Linked DNA regions of Homo sapiens: region 2 is linked to region 1. Evidence: fine-mapped expression QTL. Tissue or cell type: whole blood. Region 1 holds a variant in brackets; the other region holds the start of a gene. All regions are shown on one strand. Distances are from middle to middle.

Region 1 (8,104 bases):
AAAATAAATAATCCCATTAAAAAGTGGGCTAAGGATATAAATAGATATTTCAAAAGAAGACATACAAATGACCAACAGGTATTTGAAATAAATGCTCAGCATCACTAAACATCAAGGAAATGCAAATCAAAACCACAATGAGATATCATTGTACCCAAAAAGGAACGATTGTCATCATGATTATGATTATTATTGTTATTCTAAGAGACAGGCTCTTGCTCCATTGCCCAGGCTAGAGTGCAATGGAATGACCATAGCTCACTGTAGCCTTTAACTCCTGAGTTCAAGCAATCCTCCCACCTCAGCCGCCCCAGTAGCTAGGACTACAGGCATGCACTACCACACCTGGCCAATATTTTAAAAATTTTTCTAGAGATGGGATCTTGCTATGTTGCCCAGCTGCTCTCCAACTTTTGGCCTCAAGTGATCCTCCTGCCTCAGCCTCCCAGAGCACTGGGATTACAGGCTTGAGCCACCTCACCCGGCTGAGACTCCATCTCTACAAAAACATTAAAAATTAGCCAGGTGTGCATATATACACCATGGAATACTATGCAGCCATAAAAAGGATGAGTTCATGTCCTTTGTAGGGATATGGATGAAGCTGGAAACCATCATTCTCAGCAAACTATCACAAGGACAAAAATCCAAACACCTCATGTTCTCACTCATAGGTGGGAATTGAACAATGAGAACACCTGGACACAGGAAGGGGAACATCACACACTGGGGCCTGTCGTGGGGTGGGGTGAGGGGGGAGGGATAGCATTAGGAGATATACCTAATGTAAATGACGAGTTAATGGGTGCAGCACACCAACATGGCACATGTATACATATGTAACAAACCTGCACATTGTGCACATGTACCCTAGAACTTAAAGTATAATAATAATAAAAAAAATTAGCCAGGTGTGGTGGCTCATGCCTGTAGTCCTAGCTACTTGGGAGGCTAAGGTGGGAGAATCACTTGAGCCAGGGAGGTCAAGGCTGCTGTGAGCTATGATTGTGCCACTGCACTTCAGCCTGGGTGACAGAGCGAGACCCTATCTCAAAAAATAAAATAAAATAAAAAGTAATAGCCATTCTCAGGCATGGTGGCTCACATCTGCAATCCCATGCTTTGAGCTATGATTGTGCCACTGCACTTCAGCCTGGGTGACAGAGCGAGACCCTATCTCAAAAAATAAAATAAAATAAAAAGTAATAGCCATTCTCAGGCATGGTGGCTCACATCTGCAATCCCATGCTTTGGGGGTCCGAAGCAGGAGGATTGCTTGAGGCCAAAAGTTGGAGAGCAGCTGGGCAACATAGCAAGATCCCATCTCTAGAAAAAAATTTTAAAATATTGGCCAGGTGTGGTGGTGCATGCCTGTAGTCCTAACTACTGCGGCGGCTGAGGTGGGAGGATTGCTTGAACTACAGTGAGCTATGGTCATGCCATTGTATTCTAGCCTGGGCAATGGAGCAAGAGCCTGTCTCTTAGAATAACAATAATAATCATAATCATGATGACAATCATTCCTTTTTGGATACAATGATATCTCATTGTGGTTTTGATTTGCATTTCCTTGATGTTTAGTGATGCTGAGCATTTATTTCATATACCTGTTGGTCATTTGTATGTCTTCTTTTGAAATAACTATTTATATCCTTAGCCCACTTTTTAATGGGATTATTTATTTTTTATGGTTGAGTTGTTTGAGTTCCTCGTATATTCTGGATATTAATCCCTTGTTGGATGAATAGTTTGCAAATATGGTATATAAGCTTTTGTATGAACATTTGTTTTCAATTTTCTTGAGTATACACCTGGGAGTAAAATGACTGGGTCACGGCCGGGGCAGTGGCTCATGTCTGTAATCCCACCCTTTGGGGGGCCGAGGTGGGCGGATCACTTGAGCTCAAGCATTCGAGACCAGCCTGGCCAACATGGCAAAACCCCATCTCTACTAAAAATACTAAAATTAGCTGGGCATGGTGGTGCTTGCCTGAAATCCTGGCTACGTGGGGGGCTGAGGCATGAAAATTGCTTGAACCTCTGGGTGGCAGAGGTTGCAGTGAGCCAAGACTGCACCACTGCACTCCAGCCTGGGTGACAGAGGGAAACTCTGTCTCAAAAAAATAAGAATAATAAAATAATAATAAAGAATGACTGGATCATATGGGCCTTATGGAAATTCTATGTTTAACTTTTTGAGGAAGTACCAAACTATTTTCCACAGTGGCTGCACCATTTTACATCCCTACCATCAACGTATGGGGGTTTCAATTTCTCCACAATCTCTCCAACACTTGTTATTGTCTGTTTTTTTTTTTTTAAATTGTAGCCATCCTAGTGGGTGTGGGGTGACATTTCATTGTGGTTTTAATTTGCATTTCCCTAATGACTTTAACGCTCGTGTGTTTATGTATGTGTGTGTGGTGCTGGTGGTGTAATAATTACCTTGCTTCAATAACAGGATATTAATGGATTATATGTTAAAGAAAACATAAAATACAGCAAAAGTCAGTTCTTTCCTGTCCCATATCTTTTATTCATCTGTCTATCCTTCCCTCAACAAATGCCCAATCAATTAATTTCCACTTCTTTATGTAACCAATATTTTTAAAATTTTTGTAGAGATGGGATCTTACTATGTTGCCCAGCTTCTCTTCAACTTTTGGCCTCAAGCGATCCTCCTGCCTCAACCTCCCAAAGCACTGGGATTACAGATGTGAGCCACCATGCCTGAGAATGGCTATTATTTTTTTTTTAATTACAAAAAAAAAGGTTTTTTTTGAAACAGAGTCTCCCTCTGTCTCCCAGGCTGGAGTGCAAAGGTGCAATCTCGGCTCACTGCAGTCTCCACCTCCTGGGCAATTGTCTTGCCTCAGCCTCCTGAGTAGCTGGGATTACAGGCGTGTGCCACCACACCTGGCTAATTTTTTGTATTTTTTAGTAGAGATGGGGTTTCACCATGTTGGTCATGCTGGTCTTGAACTCCTGACCTCATGATCCACCTGACCTCGTGATCCGCCTGCCTCGGCCTCCCAACATGCTGGGATTACAGGCGTGAGCCACCGTGCCCGGCTTTTTTATTTTATTTTATTTTTTGAGATAGGGTCTCGCTCTGTCACCCAGGCTGAAGTGCAGTGGCACAATCATGGCTCACAGCAGCCTTGACCTCCCTAGCTCAAGTGATTCTCCCACCTTAGCCTCCCAAATAGCTGAGACTACAGGTATGAGTCACCACACCTGGCTAATTTTTAATGTTTTTGTAGAGATGGAGTCTTGGCTGGGTGTGGTGGTTCACTCCTGTAATCCCAGCACTTTGGGAGGCCGAAGTGGGCAGATCACCTGAGGTCAGGTGTTCAAGACCAGCCTGGCCAACATGGTGAAACCCCATCTCTACTGAAAATACAAAAAATTAGCCGAGTGTTGTGGCACGTACCTGTAATCCCAGCTACTTGGGAGGCCAAGGCAGGAGAATTGCTTGAACCTGAGAGACGGAAGTTGCAGTAAATTGAGATCACACCATTGCACACCAGGCTGGATGACAGAGTGAGACTCTGTCTCAAAACAACAACAAGAAAAGAGATGGAGTGGCACTGTGTCACCCAGGCTGGTCTCAAAATCCTGGGCTCAGGTGATTCTCTCACCTCAGCCTCCAAATATGCTGGGATTATAGACATTATCCACCTCGTCTGACCCATAATGACTACTATAAAAAGATAAAAGCAACAGATGCTGGCCAAAATAAAGAGAAAAGGGATCTCTTATACACCGTTGGTGGGAATGTAAATTAGTACCACAGTTAATGAAAACAGTATGGAAATTTCTCAAAAAGCTAAAAATATAACTACCATATAATCCAGCAATCACACTACTGGGTATTTATCCAAAGGAAAAGAAATCAGTATATCAAAGGGATACCTGCACTTGCATACTTATTGCAGGACTACTCACAATAGCCAAGATACAGAATCAACCTAGGTGTCCATCAATGGACTAACGGATAAAAAAAATGGCATATATACAAAATGGAATACTATACGGCCATAAAAAAGAATAAAATTGTGTCATTTGCAGGAACATGGGTGGAACTGGAGGTTATTATGTTAAATGAAAGAGACCAGGCATGGAAAGATAGATGCCACATGCTCTCGCTCATATGTGGGAGCTAAAAAATTGGTCTCATAGAGATAGAGAATAGAATGATAGATACTAGAGGCTGGGAGGAGTATGTGGGTGGGAAGGGGGAATAAAGAGATATTGATTAGTGGGTACAAACACACAGTTAGATAGAACAAATAAGTCCCAATATTTAATAGCAGAGTAGGGTGACTGTAGTTAGCAACACTGTATAGTGTATCTCAAAGTAGTTAGAAGAGAGGACTTGAAATGTTATCAACACATAGAAATGATAAATGATAAAAGTCAAAGTGATACATGCCTCCAATACCTTGCCTTGATCATTACATGTTCTTTTTTTTTTTTTTTTTTTTTTTTTGAGATGGAGTCTTGCTCTGTCGCCCAGGCTGGAATGCAGTGTCACGATCTTGGTTCATTGCAACCTCCACCTCCCGGTTGCAAGCGATTCTCCTGCCTCAGCCTCCCCAGTAGCTGGGACTACAGGCG[C/T]GTGCCACCACGCCCGGCTAATCAAAACATGTTCTATTTATGTAACAAATACATGTACCCCATAAATACATAAAATATTTTGTATCAATAAAAAGCAAACGATCTTTTTTTTTTTAAATTTTATTTGAGATGGAGTCTGGCTCTGTCGCCCAGGCTGGAGTGCAGTGGCGAGATCTCGGCTCACTGCAAGCTCCGCCTCCCAAGTTCACGCCATTCTCCAGCCTCAGCCTCTCGAGTAGCTGGGACTACAGGCGCCCGCCACCACGCCCGACTCATTTTTTGCATTTTTAGTAGAGACGAGGTTTCACTGTGTTAGTCAGGATGGTCTCGATCTCCTGGCCTCGTCATCCACCCGCCTTGGCCTCCCAAAGTGCTGGGATTACAGGCCTGAGCCACCGCGCCTGGCCTACGATCATTTAAAAAAAAAAAAAAAAAGTCTTGTTAAGAATGTTCAGGTCCCGTGTAGTGGCTCACGCCTGTAATCCCAGCACTTTGACAGGCCGAGGAGGGCGGATCACCTGAGGTCAGGAGTTCAAGACAAGCCCGGCCAACATGGTGAAACCCCGTCTCTACTAAAAATTCAAAAATTAGCCAGGTATGGTGGTATGTGCCTGTAATCCCAGCTACTTGGGAGACTGAGGCAGGAGAATTGCTGGAACCTGGGAGAGGGAGGTTGCAGTGAGCCAAGATTGTGCCACTGCACTGCAGCCTGGGCAACAGCGAGATTCCATCTCAAAAAAAAAAAAAAAAAAAAAGAATGTTCATAGCAGGTTGGGTGCAGTGGCTCACCCCTGTAATTCTAGCACTTTAGGAGGCAGAGGTATGCAGATAACATAGGCCCAGGAGTTCAAACCAGCCTGGCCAACATGGCGAAACCCTGTCTCTACTAAAACTACAAAAATTAGCCAGGCGTGCTGGTGCAAGCCTTTAATCTCAGTTACTCAGGAGGCTGAGGCATGAGAATCACATGAGCCTGGGAGGTGGAGGTTACAGTGAGCCAAGATTGCACCACTGCACTCCAGCCTGGGCAGCAAAGCAAGACTCTGTCTCAAAGAAAATTAAAAATTACGTTAAAAAAAGTTCATAGCAGCATTATTCATAAAACAACCCAAATGTCTATCAACTGATAAATGGATAAACAAAATGTGGTATATTCACAAATAAAATATTATACAGCCAAAAAGAGAGTACTGATATATGCTGCACCATGGACGAACCTTGAAGACATTATGCTTAGTGAAAGAAGCCAAACATGAAAGGCCACCTTTTAATGATTCCACTTGTATGAAATGTACAGAGTAGGCTAACTCATAGAGACAGAAAGTAGATCAGTGCTTGTGGGGTGAGAGGAACAGGGAATGACTGCTAATGGGTATGGAGCTTCTTTTTGGGGTAATGAAAAATTTCTGGAATTTGATAGTGGTGATATTTGCACAACCTTGTAAATATACTAAAAACCACTGAATTGTACGCTGAAAAGGGTGAATTTTATAGTATGTGAGTTATATTTCAATTAAAAAACCCAGAAATGATAGCAAACTGATTTCTATATTTATAGACCTTGGGCAACAAGCGTTTTGGTAACACCACCCAGCTTTGCATTTTCCACCAAAATGTTAAGCAAAAGAATTACTCAGAGGACAAGGAGAAAAAGCTGGCTATAAATTTTGAAACATAATTTTTAAAAATCTATATTGCATACAATGCTGATTATAAATATGCAATGTAAAGCTCTGCAAAATGCAAACAGTATCTAAATGTAAAATGTAGAAAGTTGCAGTTTCCTATAACCCTATTGTAGGGATTAATGTAATGCTAGCAGTTTAACAGATCAATCCTAACATCTCAAATGCCTAATAAGATAAGATTTTATCTTTTACCAGTGAAATCTAAAACAGAATTTTGCCCCTATCAACATGAAAGAATCAAAAGGATCAGCACCCATTTTTAAAGAGTTTATTCAGGCTGGGCACAGTGGCTCACACCAGTAATTCCAGCACTTTGGCAGACCAAGAAGGAGAATTGCTTAAAGCCAGGAGTTCAAGACTAGACTGGGCATCAAAGTGAGACTCTGTTTCTATTAAAAAAATTTTTTTAAGGCGTTTATTCCGTGAAAATGGGGTCAGTGAAATGGGGTCCGTGCTCTGATGTCAAAAGTTAAGGTCTTGTTTATAAAGGAAGAAAACAAAGAAATTTAACAGGATTATTTCTTATACAAAGCTGGTTTATGAATTAAAACAATTCAATTAGTTAATTTGTTTTCTTTTCCTTGTGGCTTGGTTTCATTTATTTTCTAATTTAAAAGAGTATATAATGTAACAGTCATGAAGGCTTTGTGTGAGAGAGGTAGGAAGGAAGTTAATCTGCAATGAAGATCAGCAGTGAAGTGGGACTAAAGGGAAGTACCCTTTAGTCATTTACAACATTTTACAAAATTATGTAGATAAGGAAGGAGGCTAATCTATAATCAGAGAAAAAATGTTTACAGTTTCCTAGGTTACAGCTGCCTGTCACATGACTCAAGTCTCATAAACACATTTCTTTAAAGCTCAAAATAATTTAATGTTCCAACAGCTTAGATTTTTTTCTTTTTTTTTTTTTTTTTGAGGCAGAGTCTTGCTCTCTTGCCCAGGCTAGCATGCAGTGGTGCAGTCTTGGCTCACTGCAACTTCCGCCTCCTGGGCTTAAGTGTTTCTCGTGCCCTAGCCTCCCAAGTAGCTGGGGCCACAGGCGTATGCCACCATGCCCGGCTAATTTTTTGTATTTTTAGTAGCGACGGGGTTTCACCCTGTTGGCCAGGCTGGTCTCGAACTCCTGACCTCAAATGATCCACCTGCCTTGGTTTCCCAAAGTGCTGGGGTTACAGGCGTGAGCCACTGCACCTGGCCCAATAGCTTAGATTTTGAATTACTTATTTTCACACCACTGATCAGTAAATTGCTCTTCTCCAAGCAATGATTCAGAGACCCAAGGTCATTCTATCTTCTGTCTTCATCTTGAACACACGACATTCAGAGTTGCCACAGAAGGAGAAAGAGCATGGAGAACTGTCCACGATTCCATTGGCCAGATCTCAGGCACACGGCCATAGTTATCTGCAAGAGAGACTGAGAAATGTAAGCTGATGAGTGGCCAGGCGGAAGAGGAAACAGATTTGTTGAACTTTTGGCCAGTCTCTGCCACACATTTCTCACCAACAACTCTGTCAATAGTTTATAGCAAAGTCCTCCACCTTTTTTTGGTATGCATATACTAATATATAATAACATTTTTAGGGAATCATGCTATGTATATTGGATACTATGGACTGGGTAGGCTGATTCAGATATGACCTGCGCTTATTTAGTCATCATCCATATACATTCAGAATTTAGAGTATACTGATTCAAACCTTGGTAACCTCAAGCGGGCATTACACATTGTTATTCAGATGTTTCTCATACTGACTCAGATGCTACTCAGCACGCTCTTACATGTAAGCCTG
Region 2 (8,101 bases), 28 kb after region 1:
GCCTGTAGTCCCAGGTACTCCTCCGGAGGCTGAGGTGGGAGGATCACTTGAATCCAGGAGTTAAAGGCTGCAGTGAGTTATGATTATACCACTGCACTCCAGCCTGGCTAAGAGCAAGATTCTGTCTTAAAAAAAAAAAAAAAAAAGAAGGCCGGGTACGGTGGCTCACACCTGTAATCCCAGCACTTTGGGAGGCTCAGGCGGGCAGATCACATGGTCAGGAGTTTGAGACCAGCCTGACCAATGTTGTGAAACCCCCCTTCACTAAAAATACAAAAATTAGCCTGGCATGGTGGTGTGTGCCTATAATCCCAGCTACTCTGGAGGCTGGGGCAGGAGAATCGCTTGAACCTGGGAGGTGGAGGTTGCAGTGAGCTGAGATCATGCCACTGCACTCCAGTCTGGGTGATAGAGCAGGACTCTGTCTCAAAAAAAAAAAAAGAAAAAAAAAGTTAGCAATACAAAGAAGCAGGAACTGTGGGAAAACTTTCTGGGGATGGGGACAGTAGTAGTAGTTCTGGTGGCACCATCCAGTATGTTGACACTTTAGACCTTATTTTGCTTTCTGATGGCCTTTGCCAGGGAAACAGACAAGAGATTCTCTATACTTAATAATAATTGTTACTACTCATTGAGTGTTTACTGTGAGCCAAGTGTTTTATTAGTTTTCTGTCCTAATTCCTATCAACCATTTAAGACGGCTATTAATATATCCTCTGAGGTTAAATGAGGATAACTCCAAGATCACACAGTTGGCAGAGTTGGGATTCAGTTTCAGAGTGACCCCAAAGCCAGATCTTAATCATATTTCTATATTGCGGCTATTTCTTTTGCCAACTCCTAATTTTTGGGCCTGATCCCCTATCTGAGGCTGAAATCTGGGGCCATACCCTTGGAGGGGAAGAAAGATAGGGTCACATAGACTGTTGTCTGTCATTAGCCCGTTTGGCAGGGGGATATAGGCTCTGCCCAAACGTAGACAGGCTCTGAGCCAGGTTGCACAGATGCAGGCAGTCCTCTGAGTCAGGCTGGGAAAGGCTCCAGATGAACCGCCAGACTTCTGTGTCTGAAACCCTGAGAGATAAAGAGGAAACTTGGGTGGCTCCCTCAGAGACAAAGTGATTCTGCAGGTTCAGAATGTGCTGAAATCCAGGCCATAAGAAAGTGGCAATAATACATGAAGAGGGGGAATGTGTGAGAATCAATCAACTCTCTGCTGGCAATTCTTGCTTGTAAATTGATTAATTGAATTCTTTCTTCTCCTTCTCTTCCCAGGCTGGATTTTGAGGACTGAGGCTCAAAACCCCCAAACCCAGATCCAATCCTTTTTACACCTTCCATTTCCCCACATGCCAAGTCTCAGAGCCAACTTGGCCCCTCTCACCCTTTTCATTTAGTCAATTTTTACTATAAATACTTATTATCAATTTTGTGCCAGACAAACAAGGACTTATTGGGAGGAAGCAACTTACAGGAGAGGAAGCTATTAAAAGATAAGTGCACAAATAATGAATGAGGATTGTAATACCTGCCAGGAAGGAAAAGCAGTATTGAATGAGAATGTGTCTTAATTCATTCCTGCTGCTATAACAAAATACCTAGACTGGGTAATTTATAAATAATACAAATTTCTTTCTTTTTCTTTCTTTTTTTTCTGAGACGGAGTCTTGCTGTGTCACCCAGGCTGGAGTGCAGTGGCGTGATCTCAGCTCACTGCAACCTCCACCTCCTGGGTTCAAGTGATTCTCCTGCCTCAGCAGATTCGAGTAGCTGGGTTTACGGCCACGTAGCTGGGACTACAGGTGCCCACCACCATGCCTGGCTAATTTTTGTATTTTTAGTCGAGATGAGGTTTCGCCATGTTGGCCAGGCTGGTCTCGAACTCCTGACCTCAGGTGATCCGCCCACCTCGGCCTCCCAAAATGCTGGGATTACAGGTGTGAACCACCGCGCCTGGCCGATTCAGATTCTTATTAGATCTTTGTGCTTATCTTCTAGCAGTTCTCCCTGCCTCTTTTGTTGCCCACTGAAGGCCATGCCCTACACTGTAGCTAGATTTTTATTTCTAAAATACAGTATGACTAGTGCCTCCTCGCTTTCACATTAAGGTTTGACCTCTCTTGCCTAGCATAGTTTGCTCAACCTCCTTTTCTTCAGCCTTATCTCCTACTTTTCTCCTGCAGGAACCTCTCACCTCAGTCCAGCACAGATTCCCATCTCCACTACTGTTCATTCATGTTTGCTCTGCAAGGATCTATCTGTCCATCTCTGCCTAGGAAATGACTATTCTGAATTCAAGGCACTCACTGAACATGTGCTAGATGAGAACTCACCATGGATGAAGCACTGGGTACTGGACAAGGGGCAAGATCAGCGAGGAGGAAAAAGCTGGAAGACAGAAGGCAGCGTATCTTCTGATGACCACTCCAAATGGAAATATCATTTCCAAAATAGACTGTAAGCTCCATGAGAGCAGTAACAGGGTCTGACTTGTCCACTGCTGGATCCCTAGTTGTGCTTGGTACAAAGTAGCATAGCAATTATTGAACTCTTCCAATAATTGCTACTATGTAGCTCAATAGTTTTTTTTCAGTGCATAAATACATGTGACAGATATTCTTTTATTTATTTTTTTGAGACAGAGTCTCACTCTGTCGCCAGGCTAGAGTAGAGAAGCACGATCTCAGCTTACTGCAACCTCTGCCTCCCGGGTTCAAGCGATTCTCCTGCCTCAGCCTCCCAAATAGCTGGGACTACAGGCGCATGCCACCACGCCCAGCTAATTTTTGTATTTTTTAGTAGAGACGGGGTTTCACCATATTGGCCAGGCTGGTCTTGATCTCTTGACCTCGTTATCTGCCCGCCTCGGCCTCCCAAAATGCTGGGATTACAGGTGTGAGCCACCGCGCCCAGCCCTTCATGTGACGGATATTCTTAAACTATCTTCCCATCTCCTACTGGAGTTACAAATGCATGGATCTAGACTTCTTAAAAGACTGGACATTCCTTAGGGCAGGGGTTGTAACTTAAGTCGTGTGTGCATTCTTTATAATGAAGCATTTTACAAAGTGGTTTCACATACATTACTGCTTCCGTTTCTCATTACAGCCCCATTAATATTCCCCACCTGATGAGGAAACTTTCTTCATTCTCCTTCCTGCTTCCTCTTCTCTCTCCTCTTCCTCTAGAATGCGTGTATGGTCTATGTTCCTTCTGTCTCTAATCCAGAAAGAGATTTAGAATAACTAAATGCAGAGTCAAAGATTATGTCCAAATAAAGTTAGAGTTTGTGTGTGTGTGAGACAGTGTTTTTAGTTAAATGTCAATATTTAAAATATACTATGACTTTTATACCATATTTTTTCATGTTGTCATGTTCTTTTAAACATGCTGGGAGCCATAAAGTTAGGAAGAGGCCCAGTAACCCGTCCAAAGTAACCTGACCAAAGTCTGACCCCTAGTAGAGGGCCTATGCCAGCACTGGAACCCAGTGTCTCCAGATCCAGAGGCATTCACCACCTCAAATCTGCCTCAAATGTCTGCAGTATGGTCTATCACAGGGGCTAATTAAGCTCATGGGATTTAGAGTCAGACAGATGTGTTTCCTTCAAAGTTTCAACAGTTACTTTCTGACCTTGGCAAGTTATTCAGCTTCCTCATTTGAAAACTAGAGGGCATAATGGTACCTACCACCGAGAGTTGCTATTAGGAGTAAATGAAAATACGCTTGAAGAACTCAGCATGGGCCTGGCAAGTAGTCAGCGTGCAGTAAATGGTAGCTGTTATTTTAAGAACTTTATTTGTTGAATGATTGACTCTGGCACATAACGCCTGCATTCAACTTGAAACACGGAGCTGTCACAGTCGTTCAGCTGAAGGGGCGGGAACTGTGGCACTTGCCAATTTTTTCTAGAAATAAATCTTTGTGGGAGGATAATGACCGGTTGGAGAGTGTGAGTCTTGAGGGAACAAAGATCGGATCTCCCGGCCCAAGGAGTACGGAAGCGAAGCCTCCCCTGCGCGCGGCAGCCACCGTGCGTAACCTCCCCTGAACCGAGTAGCAGCCGCCTGAGCCCACCCAGCCCTGGGCGAGGCTGCCTCAGAAGCCGGATTTCAGCAGAGTGGGTGCAGGATCTGCTTTAATTCTGCTCATCTTATTCTCGGGGACCACACCCTGCGCGCCGGGAGGAAGGGCTCCAAAACCACAGGGCGGAGGCTTCCGCGCGGCCCCAGACTTGACCATCTATGGTCACAGAACACACCGACCAAACAGGAAGTGGGGTGAGAGCGGAGGGTTCCCTACCTTCCCAGCCCCGCGACTGCCAGCCGGGCTGGGGCTGACCCACCGCGCCCTCACTGACCCCCACGCCCTGCGCCCAGTCTCCGCAAGTCCTCCCACAACAATGTCCAGACTAATTGCCTTCCCACGTCACAAACGGGGAAACCGAGGTATGCACGCCCAGAGACAGGCGGAGCGTGGCCTCGATCACCACCGAGAGCTGACGGCCGCCCGGATTCCCGCCCTCAGAGAATCCTGGCCCCCAGTCGTTCCAAGACCCTTTACGGACTGCAGCTTAAAGGAACCGGCCTCTGCCATTGAGACCAAACTGACAGAGGAACTGGTCACTCTTCTGTTCTTTCCAGAGAGGAGCTTAGCCAGGGACTTCTGCCCTTCCTGGGCCCGGGCCTCGGGGGCGATTCCGGGTAGGTAAAGCGGAACGAGGGCGTGGCCTCTCTTGTGAGCCCGCCCTCCCCGTGTCGCTCCCGCCTTGAGGGCGGGGCTCTTTCCCAAGTGCCCTCTGTGAGAGCCGGGCCGCTCTCTCCGGGGCGTGGCGAAGAGGGGCGGAGTCACGAGCGGGGCGGTGAGACTTCCTGCCCAGTCGCGGGCCAGCCTAGCGCTTCAGCCGGCGGCTCATTTCCGGTGGGGGCGCCGCGCCCAGTGAGGGCCCGGAAGTGGGTCGCGCGGAGATTGCTGGGCGGTTCTTGCCGGAAGCGGAGAGCGGCTGATCGCAGTCCGGAGGTGAGGCGGAACTCTGAGGTGAGGGTGTGCAGCTTGGTAGGGATTGGGGTCCCTTCCGGGGCCCATCGGCCCCTGGTGGTGTTAATGGCCCTTCTGGCCTACGCGCGTGTCATGAACCCTGCCGAGAGGGCCGGGGCTGAGGCCCTCAGGCCGACCCGGACTCTTGGGCGCGGTCTCTTGAGGTGGGGCCGGGGTGAGCAGCTGAGTCCGGGTGCCCCGGGGAGGCCCCTCTGCCCGATTTCGCAGCGCTGCCCATCAGCTTCAGCGGAGGCCTGATTCCTGAGGTGCTCTGACTGGAAGGAACCTCCGAGATCGGAGAGTCTTCCCTGTCTCCTGTTGATGCTCCCATTGCACTGATAGGTAAATTGATCCCTAGAGAAGAGGCTAGTCTGAGATATATAGCGAGTGAGGAAAAGAATCGGAATCATGATCCTGGTGCCTTAGATAACCAGCCCCAGTTCTTCCCGTGTTGCTCGGAACCTCTCTAACTTGGGATGGTCTTCCGGTCGGTGTTGCCCCGCAGGCTGCTGCAGGTTAAAGGCCAGCGCTGCGTGGAACTTTTTTTTTTCTCTCCTCCCAAATTGAGCCGTTTGAAATGCCTAGGGAGTTTTTAAAAGAAAGGCGGGCACATCCTTGTATTTACAGGCAGATATCCTCCCTTTCCTCCTCGGCTGCTGCTCTTACTTTGACAAGCCAGGCTAACATTGAAGGTATGTACTTCTGGACCTGAAATCAGACGGCTCAGGTTTGGTCTGGCCTCAGTGCTGAGTGTCTGTGGCCATAGGTGCCTTAAACTTCTTTCAGCCTCCTTTTGTTCATCTTTTAAGTGGAGATCTCTGCTGACCCCACAAGATTAAATTCAGCGTAACAAATTGTGTTTATTCTGTGCCAGCATTTTCCCAGATGCGGGGAATGCAGCTTTAAAACAAAACAATGTAGACCCTGCCCGCGTGGAGCTAGCAGTGTTTGCAGGGATGTTTAAGAAGTAATTATAAATGTTGATGAGTGTTAGGAAAGAACAGGGTGCTCTGAAAGTATGTAACAGGGGGTTCAGGAAAAGCCCTTCTGAAGAAGCAGAGTTTTTAAGATGAATTTTGAAGGATAAATAGGAATGCGTTCGAAGAGTGGAATGAGAACATTTGAGACAGGTTAGCATCAGAACTGTGTCAGTTGAAGCTCTTTGTGGGGCTCTCTCTTCAAGAGAAAATCCGGGGGCATATCAGCACATTTATCATTTACCAGACTTTTATTTAATTTATTTATTTGTATTTTTAGTAGAGATGGGGTTTCGCCGTGAAGGCCAGGCTGCTCTCGAACTCCTAACCTCAGGTGATCCCCCCACCTCGGCCTCCCAAAGTGCTGGGATTACGGGCATGATCCACCGTGCCCGGCCCCACCAGACGTTTATTAAGACCTTAATATGTATGAGGCACATTTTAATGAGATAGCCTTTGTGGCAAAGAATACAGTTCTTCTGGAGTTTACAGTGGGAGAGGAAATAGACAAGTAAATGAGGGATGGCTTACAGTGTCATAGTGCATAGCACAGGGCTACAAGAGCACAGTGGAGAAATACCTGAGCCAGGTGCCCAGGGTTCCAGGAGGAAATGGGAGGCTAACTCTTGAAATATTTATTTAGCTACATAGGGAATCCGGAAAAGGGATTTCCAGGCAGAGACTACTACAGGTGCAAGGACCTGGAGAACCGGACAGCTGAAAGACCATGACGAGTTCAGTGTGACTGGAATTCTAGTAATGGCTGGGGAAGTGGAGGAAGTGAGATGTGGTCAGGTCAGTCATATGTGGAGGACATTGTAAGTCATGCTAAGGAATTTGGATTTTTACCCTGAAAGCTATGGAGATGCTTTGAAGGGTTTTATGCAGGAAAATGATGTCGTCAGATTTATATTTCAGAAAGTTCATTCTGTCAAGTAGGAGGGGACCAGCCCTGTGGGGAAGTAAAACAGTGTTTGGAAGCTCTTGCTGTAGACATGGCCTGAACTAAGACAGTGGAAATGGGAATGGAGAGGAGGCATCAGATGTGAGCAATATTAAGAAGATAGAATCCATAGAATTGGAGGCTGATTATGGGAATGAAGAGGTAAGAATAGCGCGATTGCCTGGCTTTCTGGCTTAGGGAACTGAATGGGTAGTACCATTCAGATAGAGAGTATGAGAGGTAAATTAGGGAAGTGACATGGGAAAAAATGCATTTTGAATGTTTTTAGTTTGAGGTGTTTGTAGCACATCCAGGCAAAGATGTCTAATAAGGTGGGTCAGCTAAAGGAAAGAGCAAGAGTAAAGATACGGAGGCAGGAGAGGGCCTAAATTGTTCAGTGATACTGGGGCCTGGAGTTTTGCAGAAGACCAGACTGCAAAAAAGGTTAGATGTCGGCCAAGTTGTGAAGGGCTTTTTGTTTGTTTGTTTGTTTTGAGACGGAGTCTTGCTCTGTTGCCCAGGCTGGTGTGCAGTGGCACAATCTCGGGTCACTGAAACCTCCACCTCCCAGGTTCAAGGAATTCTCCTGCCTCAGCCTCCTGAGAAACTGGGATTACAGGCGTGCGCCACCACGCCCGGCTAATTTTTGTATTTTTAGTAGAGACGGGATTTTACCATGCTGGCCAGGCTGGTTTCGAACTCCTGACCTCGTGATCCGCCTGCCTCGCCCTCCCAAAGTGTTGTGATTACAGGTGTGAGCCTCCGCACCCGGCGTGAAGGGCTTTTAATGCCTTGTTGAATTTGTTTGGATTTGATTTTGTGGGTGGCAGTTTGCTAATTGATTTGCCCAGGTCCAGCATAAAGAAATTTCTGGGCTGGGCACAGTGACTCACGCCTGTAATCCTGACACTTTGGGAGGCTGAGGTGGGCAAATCACTTGAGATCAGGAGTTCAAGACCATCCTAGCCAACATGGTGAAACACCATCACTACTAAAAATACAAAAATTAGCTGGGCGTGGTTGTGCATGCCTGTAGTCCCAGCTACTTGGGAGGCTGAGGCAGGAGACTCGCTTGAACCCGGGAGGCGGAGGTTGCAGTGAGCTGAGATTGCACTGCTGCACTCCAGCCTGGGTGATAGTGAG

Evidence for each region. PIP is the estimated chance that this variant, and not a neighbour inherited with it, causes the effect.
Region 2: CAP1 starts here. The variant in region 1 is fine-mapped to the expression of CAP1 in whole blood (TOPMed, PIP 0.98).

Annotation. Positions count from the first base shown.
Region 1 is chr1:40,007,343-40,015,446 of GRCh38, forward strand. LOC105378669 (a long non-coding RNA gene) reads right to left here. Exons shown (of 3, transcript XR_001738013.3): 3 at 6,563-7,727. Among named protein-coding and RNA genes, the nearest start is that of CAP1, 29 kb to the right of the region's middle. RefSeq lists a silencer at 8,083-8,104. The variant C/T (reference allele first, on the strand shown) is at 4,621.
Region 2 is chr1:40,035,764-40,043,864 of GRCh38, forward strand. CAP1 (cyclase associated actin cytoskeleton regulatory protein 1) reads left to right here and starts at 4,966. Exons shown (of 13, transcript NM_006367.4): 1 at 4,966-5,038. It overlaps LOC105378669 (a long non-coding RNA gene), which reads right to left and starts at 4,683. Exons shown (of 3, transcript XR_001738013.3): 1 at 3,128-4,683; 2 at 2,334-2,388. RefSeq lists enhancers at 3,984-4,617, 4,586-4,655, 4,618-5,252, 4,906-5,105, 5,176-5,265.